Linked DNA regions of Homo sapiens. The protein of the gene in region 1 interacts with the protein of each later gene in a pairwise test. Each region holds a gene or a part of one and is shown in the gene's direction. Other genes may lie near its edges.

Region 1 (3,500 bases):
GGACAGATTCAGATTTTGCTAGTGGAATCTGTAGGTGGTCTTTCTTCCTCGTACCTAATGCCAAGGTAGGAATAAACAAGGGCACCTAGTATGTTTTGCTTTGGGAGGGATTCCTCCAGGATCGAGGCTTTGGATGACTGGAGAGACAGGAATTCTTTATTCCAGACAGTAGACCAATAGACTTTCCTTGAGAAAGCTCCATGAGTGGGGAGGATTGAGTGGAGCAAAGGCTTATGGAGGAGACAGCTTAAGACTTACCTTCAGGAAATTCAGTATGGGAGGGGATAAGGAAGGGAAATCTCAGCCTGGGCAAAGGCTTGATACTGAGAGACTTAAATGCTCCCCTCAGGGCAGCAACAGCCTTAAGGAAGAGCATTTTAGGTCCAACTAGGGCGCAACTAGGGCGCAAAGGTCCAGAGGTAGGAAGGCTCAGACATATTCAGACCTTGAGGATGTTAATGAAGAGTTATTAGGCAGAGTGCTGCGGCTCTGCCTTGAGCCCCATCTTGTCGCTCCAGGTCGTGGGTGAGCCTGTACTGTGTGCTTAGTAAGGGGGAACTGGGCTTCTACAAGGACTCCAAGGGCCCGGCATCCGGGAGCACACACGGTGGGGAACCGCTGCTCAGCCTGCACAAGGCCACCAGCGAGGTGGCTAGTGACTACAAGAAAAAGAAGCATGTCTTCAAGCTCCAGTGAGCCCCCCAATGGGCAGGAGGGAGGGATCCAAGGCTCAGCTTCAACTCCCAGTGGGACCCTGGCTTCCCTGGGGGACACTTGGTGGGCAGGTGGGCTGGGCCCCTTCCCCAGATCTCTGAAGTCCTGTGTCCCTTCCTGCAGGACCCAGGATGGCAGTGAGTTTTTGCTCCAGGCAAAAGATGAGGTGAGATCTGGTCCTTTCCTCCCTCTGTGTGGACCTCAGTAATGACCTGGCTGTCTGGCTCCTGACCCAGAGTGATGGGGCTGTGAGAAGGGACACTCACAGGCCAGAGTTATCAGGGCTGTAATGGGAAAGCCCACAGGCACTGAGAGCCCAAAGGAGGTTCCTAACCCAGTGGGGAGTGGGAAGGGCTTCAGGGAGGGCTGCCTGCAGATCCTGATGACAAAGTCCAACATCTTTGCCGTGGTCACTCAGGTGAGACTGGAATGGAGGGAGTTCGCTTTAAAAAGGGGTGATTTGGCCAGGCGCGGTGGCTCACGCTTGTAATCCCAGTACTTTGGGAGGCCAAGACGGGCAGATCACCTGAGGTCAGGAGTTTGAGACCAGCCTGGCCAACATGGTGAAACCCCGTCTCTACTAAAAAATACAAAAATTAACTGGGCATGGTGGCAGGTGCCTTAATCCCAGCTACTTGGGAGGCAGAGGCAGGAGAATCGTTTGAACCTGGAAGGCGGAGGTTGCAGTGAGCTGAGATGGAGCCATTGCACTCAAGCCTGGGGGACAACAGCGAGACTTCCTTCGAAAATAAAATAAAAATAAAAAGGGTGATTCAGAGGGACAGTGGGGGTCTAAAAAAAGGAGTGATTCAGGTTGGGCACCATGGCTCAGGCCTGTAATCCCAGCACTTTGGGAGGCCAAGGCAGGAGACTGCTTGAGCCCAGGACTTCAAGATCAGCCTGGGCAACACGGAAAGATCCCATCTCTATGGGTAATAATAATAATAAATTAGCCGGGAGTGGTGGCACATGCCTGTGGTCCCAGCTACTCAGGAGGCCGAGTGGAAGGATCACCTGAACCAGGGAGGTCAAGGCTACAATGAGCTGTGATTGTACTATGGCACTCCAGGCTGGGTGACAGAGTGAGATTCTGTCTCAAAAACAAGAGGGGGTGGGTGATCTAGGTAGAGGGAACTGCAAGTGCAGAGGACCAGAGGTGCAGTATTGCAAAGGGTTAACTGCTGGAGGGCAGAGTTCATGGAAGAAGGTCCCAGAAAGGTTCCCAGGAGATAGGTGTCTCAGGACAGGATGGGCCATTTGGAGGAGATTGGATTTTTTACCTAAGGGCACTGGAGAGCTAGGGGGGATTACAGTGATGTGTAAAAAAGATTCCTGGCTGGGCGCAGTGGCTTACGCCTGTAATCCCAGCACTTCGGGAGGCCGAGGCGGGTGGATCACCTGAGGTCAGGAGTTTGAGGCCAGCCTGACCAACATGGAGAAACCCCATCTCTTATGGTGCATGCCTGTAATCCCAGCTACTCGGGAGGCTGAGGCAGGAGGATTGCTTGAACCCGGAAGGCAGAGGTTGCAGTGAGCTGAGACAGCGCCATTGCACTCCAGCCTGGGTAACAAGAGCAAAACTCCATCTCAAAAACAAAATAAACAGGCCGGGCATGGTGGCTCACGCCTGTAATCCCAGCATTTTGGGAGGCCGAGGCGGGCAGATCACAAGGTCAGGAGATCGAGACCATCCTGGCTGACACGGTGAAACCCCGTCTCTACTAAAAATACAAAAAAATTAGCTGGGCATGGTGGCGGGCGCCTGTAGTCCCAGCTACTTGGGAGGCTGAGGCAGAAGAATGGCTTGAACCCGGGAGGTGGAGCTTGCAGTGAGCTGAGATTGCGCCACTGCACTCCAGCCTGAGCGACAGAGCGAGACTCCATCTCAAAACAAAACAAACAAACAAAACAAAACAAAACAAAACAAAACAAAAAAAGATTCCTTTGGCTACCTGGGTGGGTAGCCCAGGCCGCGGCCAGGGCAGGGACCCAAGTGGGAGAGCGCATGGCTGGGCCACACAGGCCTGTGGGGAGAGGAGGAAGAGGAGTCTGAGAGAGGCAAGCATAAAGGTGGTTTGAAGAGATGTTGAGAGTAATAACTAACACTTGTTATCTCATTCAATCTTCACAAGATGCAATGAAGAAGTGGGCTTTTTTTTTTTTTGAGACAGAGTTTCTCTCTTGTCACCCAGGCTGGAGTGCCATGGCGCAATCTCAGCTCACTGCAACCTCCACTTCCCGGGTTCAAGCGACTCTCCTGCCTCAGCTACCTGGGTGACTGGGATTACAGGCTTGCGCCACCATGCCCGGCTAATTTATGTATTTTTAGTAGAGACGGGGTTTCTCCATGTTGGTCAGGCTGGTCTCAAACTCCTGACCTCAGGTGATCCACCCGCCTCAGCCTCCCAAAGTGCTGGGATTACAGGCATGAGCCACCACACCCGGCCAGAAGTAGGCCTTTACCCACTACATGCCTTCTTTTACTTATCTGCACAATGAAGATTAAAAATAGTTTCTTGGCCTGGCATGGTGCCTCACACCTGTAATTCCAGCACTTTGGGAGGCTGAGGTGGGCAGATCATTTGAGGTCAGAAGTTCAAGACCAGTGTGGCCAACGTGGCGAAACCCCATCTCTACTAAAAATACAAAAAGTAGCCAGGCATGGTGGCACGTGCCTGTAGTCCCAGACACTCAGGAGACTGAGGCACAAGAATCTCTTGAACCTGGGAGATGGAGGTTGCAGTGAGCTGACATCGAGCCATTGCACTCCAGCCTGGGGGACAGAG
Region 2 (3,500 bases), on another chromosome or scaffold:
TTAAAGTGTTGAATACTTAAATCCTCACAAGTGAATTATGAACCATTTGTAAAGTGTTTCTATAACTCTTTGTATCATGTGTTGGTACATCTTATCAAGTTTTTTCTGGCATGTAATTCCATTCTAAACTTATGTAAAATTTCTATTGTTGCTGTAAATATTACACAAATATCTATTCCGTGATAACCTTCATTATCAGCATGAAATGGTTAATTTTTACTGAGCACAATGTATTTTTGAATGGATCTTCCCAAATGTCTTTAATAAAATGCAGATTTTGCACTGACTGATGTGACTGCCAGGCCGTCCCAATCTTGAGCACTGTGGTCCTTCGTGTTTGAACTGCGAACAGCTCCATTTTAGTTCCTTCTTGGGAAGAAAGAATGCATTCGAATTCAAATGAGGGATGATGGGCCTTTGAGGTTGTAATCAGTTTGAGACAGAAATTAATGTAAAACTAGGCAAATCCTGTAACTTAATGATGTTGATCTTTGTTTTCCTATTTATAAAGCTTTTTTCCCCTTACGGCATTTTGAAAACTTTGGTTTGTTTTATACTTGAGTGTTGTCACCTTTGCACGTCGCTAGACACTCACGTGGTAGTTTGAGGAGGATGGGAAGAGAGGCCAATCTTGTGCTAAGTGCTATGGAGAAAGCAAAGATGCACAGCTTAATAAGGGTTTTTTGATTCTAGAGGAGAGGTGGGCAAGCTTTTCCTGTAAAGGGCCAGATGGTAAATATTGGGGGCTCTGTGGCCCATCAGTTCCCTGTCAACATTACTCAGCTCTGCCTTTGTATTGCAGAGGCTGCATGGATAATATGTAAATCAGTAAGTGTGGCTGTGGTCCCGTAAAACTTTACTTATAGAAACAGGCCATAGTTTACTAACCCGTTTTAGGCCCTCAGTTTCATCATTTAGGGTAACACCAACCGAGTACATGTTCAATCAGGAGGGAAAGAACTTAGCTTTTGTGATAACTTATAGATGAAATATTCCCCAGTTTTCTTTCTCTTTCTAAACAAAGGGTAGGAGCTGAAAGTCAGTGCTCTCCATTCTTAAAAGTCCTCTGTCAACCACCTCTTCACTCTATCTCCTTAAGTGACATGGAAACTTGTGGCCTGTGCTTTCAACTATAATCTTACCAAGACTGAATGAAAGTATTTGGTGCTTATACTTTTTAATGTTCATAGCACTTACTATGGCCAGGCACAATGCCCAAGTGTTTTGCTTTATTATTATTATTATTATTATTATTATTATTATTATTATTATTATTTTCACAACAACCCAGCGAAACAGGTACTATTATTATCCCCTTTTTGTAAATGAGGAAACAGATTTCCATACTTGACATTAACCTGCCCAAGGTCACCCAGTTTGGAAGTGGCAGGGCCAGGATTTGAAGCCGAATATGTTCATTGTAAAGCCCATATACCCTTAAAAGTCACTGCACGTCCACGTATGGTAATGTGGTCACAATCAGTATTGTTTCTCTTTAGTAATTCAGATTTATTCAAGTAACTCCAAGGTTCAAATTTTCAAAAACAGTTTCCAACACAGGTTATATTAAAAACTTTGCCTGAAGTTTACTCTAGGTGCAGAAATAAAGACAACTTAGTCAAGTGAAGGAAAGGGTAACAGACTTAGAAATGGCTATCTACACTGATGGAATAAGTATACTAATTAGAGCAGGTAACAAGTCCCCACGATGTATAACATATTCTTCTCTAAAAGCTCACAACAATTTATGTGCCACCTTCCATCCCCTTTCCCAGCAGATGGTAATTGATGCAATTTGAGAATAGAACACTTCATTGAAACAAGTCACTGGAGGTCCTCTGGGGATGCAGCTTAAAAGCCCAGGATCAGGCCAGGTGTGGTGGCTCACGCCTGTAATCCCAGCACTGTGGGAGACTGAGACGGGCAGATCACCTGAAGTCAGGAGTTCGAGACCAGCCTGGCCAATATAGAGAAACCCCGTCTGTACTAAAAATACAAAAATTAGGTCTGGGCGGTGGCTCACGCCCGTAATCCTAGCACTTTGGGAGGCCAAGGTGGGTGGATCACGAGGTCAGGAGTTCGAGACCAGCCTGGCCAACATGGTGAAACCCCGTCTCTACTAAAAATACAAAAATTGGGTGTGGTGGTACATGCCTGTAATCCCAGCTGCTTAGGAGGCTGAGGCAGGAGAATCACTTGAACCCAAAAGGCAGAGGTTGCAGTGAGCCGAGATCACGCCACTGCACTCCAGCCTGGCAACAGAGCGAGACTCTGTCTCAAAAAAAAAAAAAAAAAAATACAAAAATTAGCCGGGAATGGTGGTGAATGTCTATAATCCCAGCCACTCGGGAGGCTGAGGCAGGAGAATCACTTGAACCCAAAAGGCAGAGGTTGCAGTGAGCCAAGATCGCACCACTGCACTCCCACCTGGACGACAGAGCGAGACGCCATCTCAAAAATAAATAAATAAATAAATCCCTAGGATATAGAGTCCGCTTGCCTGGGTGGAGTCTTGGCTCCATCTCCTACATCTCATGTGACTTGAAGCAAGGCACTTCACTATGCCTCAGTTTCCTTATCTTTAAATGGAGGTAATCACAGTACCTACCTCAGTGTTGTTGTGAAGATTTAATGAGATAATAACCTGCAGAGCACTTGAGAGTCTCAAGAAATATGAGCTCTTATAACATTATTGCTATTGTAAAACATTGCTATTACTTCTGTCCCAATTTGGCAGTTTCAGGAAATTGAGAAGGAATGTCACTGAATCTTTAATGCCAGTTACACAGAGCTCAGTAGGTGTCCGCACAGCCCTTTAGATGCACGTAGCCTATTTGATCTTCGTATCAGCCCTGTAAGGTTGGGCTTAAGAATGACCCAGCATGGAAGTACTCTTGGGACCACAGGGGAAGCAACAGTCCTTGTAAGCTGTTTGTCAGTGGGCCTTAGCAACCAAGCCCCAAGTGGACAGAAAGATGGGGTTCTGTGAGCATCCATTCCAAGGGTCACTTTAGGGGTGCAATCTTCTGGGCTCTGAGAATGGATTCACAGCAGCATCTCTATCTGGAAATACCTTTGCTTTGTCCAAGTAACCTCCTCCCACACAGAGTACCCGAATCAGCTCAGATTTTTTTTCCTTAATATTGGCAACACTTAATGCTACTTCTTTGTTCGTAACATTTCATTTAATTATTTAAAAATCTGCAAATGTTGTGTATATTTTACCGCAATTTTTAAACAAACTCCAGTGTAGACCGTGCTCTAGCATTTCTAAAAATAAAAGTAAATATGTTAAAATAAGGTAAGAGTGAGTTTTTCCTACACTATGTATAATTTTTAATTGAAAGTTTCCCCCACAAAAGAAATGATACTTGGAAGCATAGTTTGTGTGTTTGACAGCAAGATTCTATTAGGCTTCAGATTTCCCTCAATAAAAGTTTTAGTTTTTATACATTCTGTCATGAATTGAATGAAGTAAATAATATGCTGTTGTAAGCAAA
Region 3 (2,468 bases), on another chromosome or scaffold:
TGGGCCTGTGCTTCCAGCTACTCAGGAGGCTGAGGTGGGAGAATTGCGTGAACCCTGGAGAGCAGTGGTGCCATCGCAGCTCACTGCAGCCTTGACCTCCTGGGCTCAGGTGATCCCCCACCTCACCCTCTTGAGAAGCTGAGACTACAGGTGTCGTCACCAAGCCCGGCTAATATTTTGTGTTTTTAGTAGAGTCAGGGTTTCACCATGTTGGCCAGGCTGGTCTCGAACTCCTGGGCTCCAGCGATCTCCCTCCTCGGCTTCACAAATGCTGGGAATACAGGCATGGGCAAGTGCACCTGACTCATAAAAGTGAATTATTAAAGTAAATTGAGTTCTCTAGGGGAGGTTTTGCTTTTCCTTTTGTTTAATTGTATATTATTCTACGGAGATTTGATTTTGATATTTTACTTTTTAAGGTCTACATGAATCTTAACTTGTAATGCTCATCTAATAAGTTACATATTTGTATTTGCAGCCTCAAACTCCGATCTCTTCGAGTTAACGTAGGACAACTGCTGGCTATGATTGTGCCTGATCTTGATCTTCAGCAAGTGAATTACGATGTTGATGTAGTTGATGAGATTTTAGGACAAGTTGTTGAACAAATGAGTGAAATCAGTAGTACTTAAAGTATATGTTATGTAAGATAAAATATTTGCTCAATTCTTTTGGTTGTACAGCTTTCAAAATATAATTAATTTTGTTTTATAGATATGATAGGCAACAGACTGAAAACCATAATCTTTACTGTATTCTATGCATTCAAATGTGGTCACAAATATTGTGGACACATTATCTTATGTTTTGAAATACCTGTGAATTGTTGGCATTGAGCAGCTGAAGCTAACTCATGACTCTGTTTTGAATGTAAATATTTGTAATTAAGCCTGCACATATTTTTTTATTGCCCTAGAGTACTCAAGTGTTTTTCACCAAGAGCTTTTCAGGTTGCCCCTAAGCTTTGTGCAATTTTTTCTGGTTCCCCAAAGTGTATTTTTCTCTAAGTCGAGGGCTATGCCATAATACAAATGGAAATGTTACCTTTGATTTTCTTATAAAGGAGTTTAAATAGGATTTTTAAATAATGTAGTAACACTCCTGATACAACTCTGGTTATAAGTGAATTGAGCATTAATGTTTCTTTTGTATAAATTCCTGTCCTGAAATATTTTATTCATGAAAATAAGGTAAGCAAAAACCAACTCCATTTTGCCAGGATTTTGTTGTGCTGAGATTGCCAATCACGGTTAAACACAAAGTGTTTTTATAGAATGAAGAAACAGTCTTTAACAGAAAAAAGGTATTGAAATATTAAATGGCCACCAAGTTTACTTTGAAGCCCATTTTTGGCTGTTTAGTCAGCATGAAGTGGGCATGATAATTTTTTAATATTTCTTTTTGTGAAATTTCCTGTACAGCCTTTTGTAGGATTACTACAGGTTAATGTGAGTTGAGGAAGACAGTCTTTCTCAAACAATACTACATACCTTTTATTATATTACAAACCTAAGTGTTTTATATCCTAGAGTCAAGGAACAAATTTCCTTAGGATTATAGTATTACATGCCATAAAATACTATGCTTTATTGGTCCCATGTTTTGTGCAATTTTAAAGAGATGGCTTTCTATTAAGTATAAACTATGTATATATAAGAACCATATTTTCCACAACTAAAATGTGCATTATTTTTTCCAAAGTTTTATCATTGCTATTTATTTTTACCTTTGTTTTTGAACATTCAATCCGTTCATTTTGTATGTATGCTTAATACGTGTCGGTCATATACAGTATTGAATTTTTACTGTATAGTAATTCTGGAAAGAGCAAATAAATGAAGATTGTTTTTATTTGCCTGATAAAGTAATTGAAAGTGTATTTTTGGTATGAAGCTGGTTTTCTGTCACAATTGTAATTTCCCAAATTTTAAAATATCTTATAATAAAATAAAAATATATGATGGCTAACTGTTCAAATGCTACTTTTAAAGACTTAATATTAACCTCAAATTATTTTAAAACTAAAAATGTATTCATTAGACCCTCAACTTGAGCTCATTTTAACTACTTTAATTGCAGTTTATTTTTTGAAGACTGTTTCCATTAAGACTGAGGCTGAGCTCCTCTTTCCTCAGAGCATGTATATTCTGTTTTCAAAAGCTTTTTCTCAGCCTGGCGCAGTGGCTCACGCCTGTAATCCCAGCACTTTGGGAGGCCGAGGCGGGCGGATCACCTGAGGTCGGGAGTTCAAGACCAGCCTGACTAACATGGAGAAATGCCGTCTCTGCTAAAAATACAAAATTAGCCGGGTGTGGTGATGCATGCCTGTAATCCCAGCTACTCAGGAGGCTGAGGCAGGAGAATCACTTGAACCTGGGAGGTGGAGGTTGCAGCGAGCCGAGATCACACCATTGCACTCCAGCCTGGGCAACAAGAGCGAAACTCCGTCTCAAAAAAAAAGGACTTTT
Region 4 (3,500 bases), on another chromosome or scaffold:
TGACACAGATCAAAAAGAAATGAATTGTCAAAGATAAAAATGCCTATAAAATTTGTGAGCTTTAGGGGGTTCAAAGAATGGTAAGTTAATAGAAGAGATAGCTGAAGAGGACAGCTGGTTTTGGAAGTGGGAAAAAATAATTTTTAACATGTAGCATAGGTTACTGTAGGTTAATGACTCACCACTGGGTGGTGATAAACTAGGAGGGGTAGTGGAGAGAGAATCAGAATCATTTGGAGACCTTAATACGTATATATTAACTACCCAACGTGTAGTTTCTTTGAGGGAAGATGTGAGTCCTATATACGATCCTTCCTTCATTCTCTCCCTGAAGTTCTCACCTCTACTCCTCCAGTCTTTGGTGGCGTACCATTACTTAAGATTTGGGAAGGAAAGCTGGAGTTTGAGAGAGATTAAGCCTTGAACAGCAGATTTTGGGAGACATTAAGATACAGAAGAGACTTGAATGTATAAGCTCACTTAGATTGTGAGTTCAGATAAATGAGTAGAAGACTAAGGCCAAAGCCATTATTGAATCTAAGTTTGAGATTTAAATACTGGTGATACAAAAACTTCTCTTTAATGTACCGTAATGATTTTTAGAGGTAGTCTTTTTTTATACCATTATTTAATGTTCTAGTTAGTCACATTGCAGTCAGTTCTCTTTGAGAAAATGTTTTCCTTCTTCTGTGTACAACTAAGGTGTATGTTTCTTTTTTAAAGCTATTGGCATGTGTGTGTGTGGCAGGGGGTGGTGGTGGTGGTGTGTTCTGCTGCTTCTACTTCTTTTTTGGCTCCTGTTTTGGGGGCAGTGGAGGGAATGAGAATGGTTAAATCTTTCTTGGGCATGTATGAATTTGAAATGCTTTTCTGCTTATTTTTCCTTTTCCTTTATTATTAAACATTCTCTTCAAAAGAGTATATTTGTTTTAACAGAAAATGCATTGTGTGTATTTTCAAATTGCTTTGGCTTTGAGAACATAGCCGAATTAGAACTGAGGAAGAATTGGTTGGTTTCATCTGCTACAGGTCACCATCAGTTGAGCTATATATATAGAGAGAGAGAGTGGGATACCAGAAGTATATTTCTTTAAGTGACCTAGTTTTCTGGTCCCATTTTGATCTACTATCATGTAGATCTTACAATTTGATGATTATATAGAAGTCTCAGTTTTTTTCTAGAGAATCTTATTATATATTCTAAGGTGTTCTAATTGTGTGGTGTGTTTTGTTTGTTTGTTTTAGTTTGAAATGCTTACTGGTACTCTGCCATTTCAAGGTAAAGACAGAAATGAGACCATGAATATGATATTAAAGTAAGTGTAAACAGTATGTTTTTCTTTTGGGAAAAAAATCTCTTGCTTTCAGTTTTGAAAAAATTATTGCGGTTTTAAAATAATACAAGAGTACCTTTTTCTCACTGTCTTGTTCCCTTCTACCATATACAGGACTGTACCCTTGTAAAAGCACTTTTAAAAGTTCTTTTTGAGATTTTTCAAATCAAAAATGTGGCTAAATTTAAGTGAAACTTTCTAAAATCCTCTGTTTCAGAGCAAAACTTGGAATGCCTCAATTTCTTAGTGCTGAAGCACAAAGTCTTCTAAGGATGTTATTCAAAAGGAATCCAGCAAATAGATTGGGTATTGCTTATTTTCTTAGCTTTTATAGAAGTAACTGCATGTTTTGGGAGGATAATTAAATCTTTATGTTTTCTTGTTTGATTTGAGCACATTACTTCTATACGTAGAATTTTTCATTTTGTGTGTGCATTTCAGACAAAGTAAACTCTGTTATGTCCATGATTTAAAACTGAAGTAGTCTAGTTAATGAAAGCTTCTGTTCAACCTATTATTATGTATATATTATGGGTTACTTCTTTTGAAATAATAAACAGATTCTCCCTTGTACAGGTAATCTTTTATATATTTGAAGATAGATATTTTGCCCCCCCCCAATATTCTTCAAAGTAAATATTATGTTTCTGTAACTACTTTTTTGACCCCTTTCTGGTAGCCTTTCCCTGTATCCAGATGCGATCCTATTATTTATGCCCTTGTGTGAAAATTTCAGTGTCACTTTATTCCTTTGTACCTTTCAATTTGGCATATAAATATGAGGTCATAAGATAAATTAGGAATGAAAAAATATGTATTTAAGTTTAAGTATTATGTTTAATACTATTTGATTTGATTTGGGAGACACTTTATTGTAGTTCAATATGAATGTTAGTTATTTTTTATCACAGTAAAATGAAAGGACCAGCTAATAAAATGCCAGATAAGAAATCATGTATTTTTCTTTTCAAGGAATGTATGAAATATGTGTATTCCTGTTTACAGATAGCAGTCTGGAAGCCAGGGAGCAAGACTAAAAAAAATCATAAAAATAAAATATCATTTCTTTTTTTTATAGGATCAGAAGGAGTTGAAGAAATCAAAAGACATCTGTTTTTTGCAAATATTGACTGGGATGTAAGTTAAGTAGAAAGCTTGTTATTGAATAACTTCATATGACCAACACAGGATATTAAAGATTTATTGCTTTTAATCTAAATAACAAATCAGTGGAATATTTACATACATATTTATTTTTCTTTTTCTTAAAAAAATAATTTAGATCTGGGGGTGCATTTGTGGGTTTTTTCCGTGGATGTATTGCATAATGGTGGGTTTGGATTTCTAATGTACCCATCAACCAAACAGTGACCAGTAGGTAATTTTTCAACCCTCAATTCCCTTTTAACTTCTCCCCTTTTGGAGTCCTCGGTGTCTATTATTTCCATCTGTATGTCCATGTGTATCCATTGTGTAGCTCCCACTTATAAGTGAGAACATGGGATATTTGATTTTCTGAGTTATTTCACATAGGATAATAATCTCCACCTCCATCCATGTTGCTGCAAAGATAATGATTTTATTCTTTCTTATGGCTGCATAGTATTCCATGGTGTCTATATACCTATTTTCTTTATCCAATTAACCATTGATGGACACTTAGATTGATTCCATGACTTTGCTATTGTGAACAGTGCTGTGATAGACATACAAGTGCAGGTGTCCTTTTTATATAATGATTTATTTTCCTTTAGGTACATACCTATTAGTGGGATTGCTGGGTCAAATTTTTTTGATTATTAGTTCTTTGAGAAATCTTCATATGGTTTTTCATAAAGGTTGTACTAATTTACATTCCCATTAACAGTGTATAAGTGTACCTGTTTTCTCCCACATCCATGCCAACATCTGTTATTTTCTAACTTTTTAATAAAAGCCCTCCTGACTGATATAAAATCATATTTCATTGTGGTTTTAATTTGCATTTTTCTGATGATTAGTGATATTGAGCATTTTTCCATGTTTGTTGGCTGCTTGTATGTCTTCTTTTGTAAAATGCGTGTTCATATCCTTTGCCCACCTTTTAATAGGTTTGTTTGTTTGTTTGTTTACCTGTTGAGTTGTTTGAGTACCTTGCAGATCTCGATATTAGTCTTTTGTCAGAGG

Evidence for each region. The genes of interacting proteins can lie anywhere in the genome.
Region 2: the proteins of SPTBN4 (region 1) and CDKL5 interact in a two-hybrid assay, tested with the Homo sapiens proteins (one large-scale study listed by BioGRID and IntAct).
Region 3: the proteins of SPTBN4 (region 1) and MORC3 interact in a two-hybrid assay, tested with the Homo sapiens proteins (one large-scale study listed by BioGRID and IntAct).
Region 4: the proteins of SPTBN4 (region 1) and RPS6KA6 interact in a two-hybrid assay, tested with the Homo sapiens proteins (one large-scale study listed by BioGRID and IntAct).

Annotation. Positions count from the first base shown.
Region 1 is NC_000019.10:40,571,501-40,575,000, forward strand, and holds part of SPTBN4 (spectrin beta chain, non-erythrocytic 4), read left to right. Parts: intron 1-518; coding exon 519-692; intron 693-837; coding exon 838-880; intron 881-3,500.
Region 2 is NC_000023.11:18,635,108-18,638,607, forward strand, and holds part of CDKL5 (cyclin-dependent kinase-like 5), read left to right. Parts: 3' UTR 1-3,500. UniProt on the Homo sapiens protein: Mediates phosphorylation of MECP2. May regulate ciliogenesis.
Region 3 is NC_000021.9:36,374,665-36,377,132, forward strand, and holds the end of MORC3 (MORC family CW-type zinc finger protein 3), read left to right. Parts: intron 1-478; coding exon 479-632; 3' UTR 633-1,968; downstream 1,969-2,468.
Region 4 is NC_000023.11:84,115,200-84,118,699, reverse strand, and holds part of RPS6KA6 (ribosomal protein S6 kinase alpha-6), read left to right. Parts: intron 1-1,245; coding exon 1,246-1,316; intron 1,317-1,551; coding exon 1,552-1,640; intron 1,641-2,412; coding exon 2,413-2,471; intron 2,472-3,500. UniProt on the Homo sapiens protein: Constitutively active serine/threonine-protein kinase that exhibits growth-factor-independent kinase activity and that may participate in p53/TP53-dependent cell growth arrest signaling and play an inhibitory role during embryogenesis.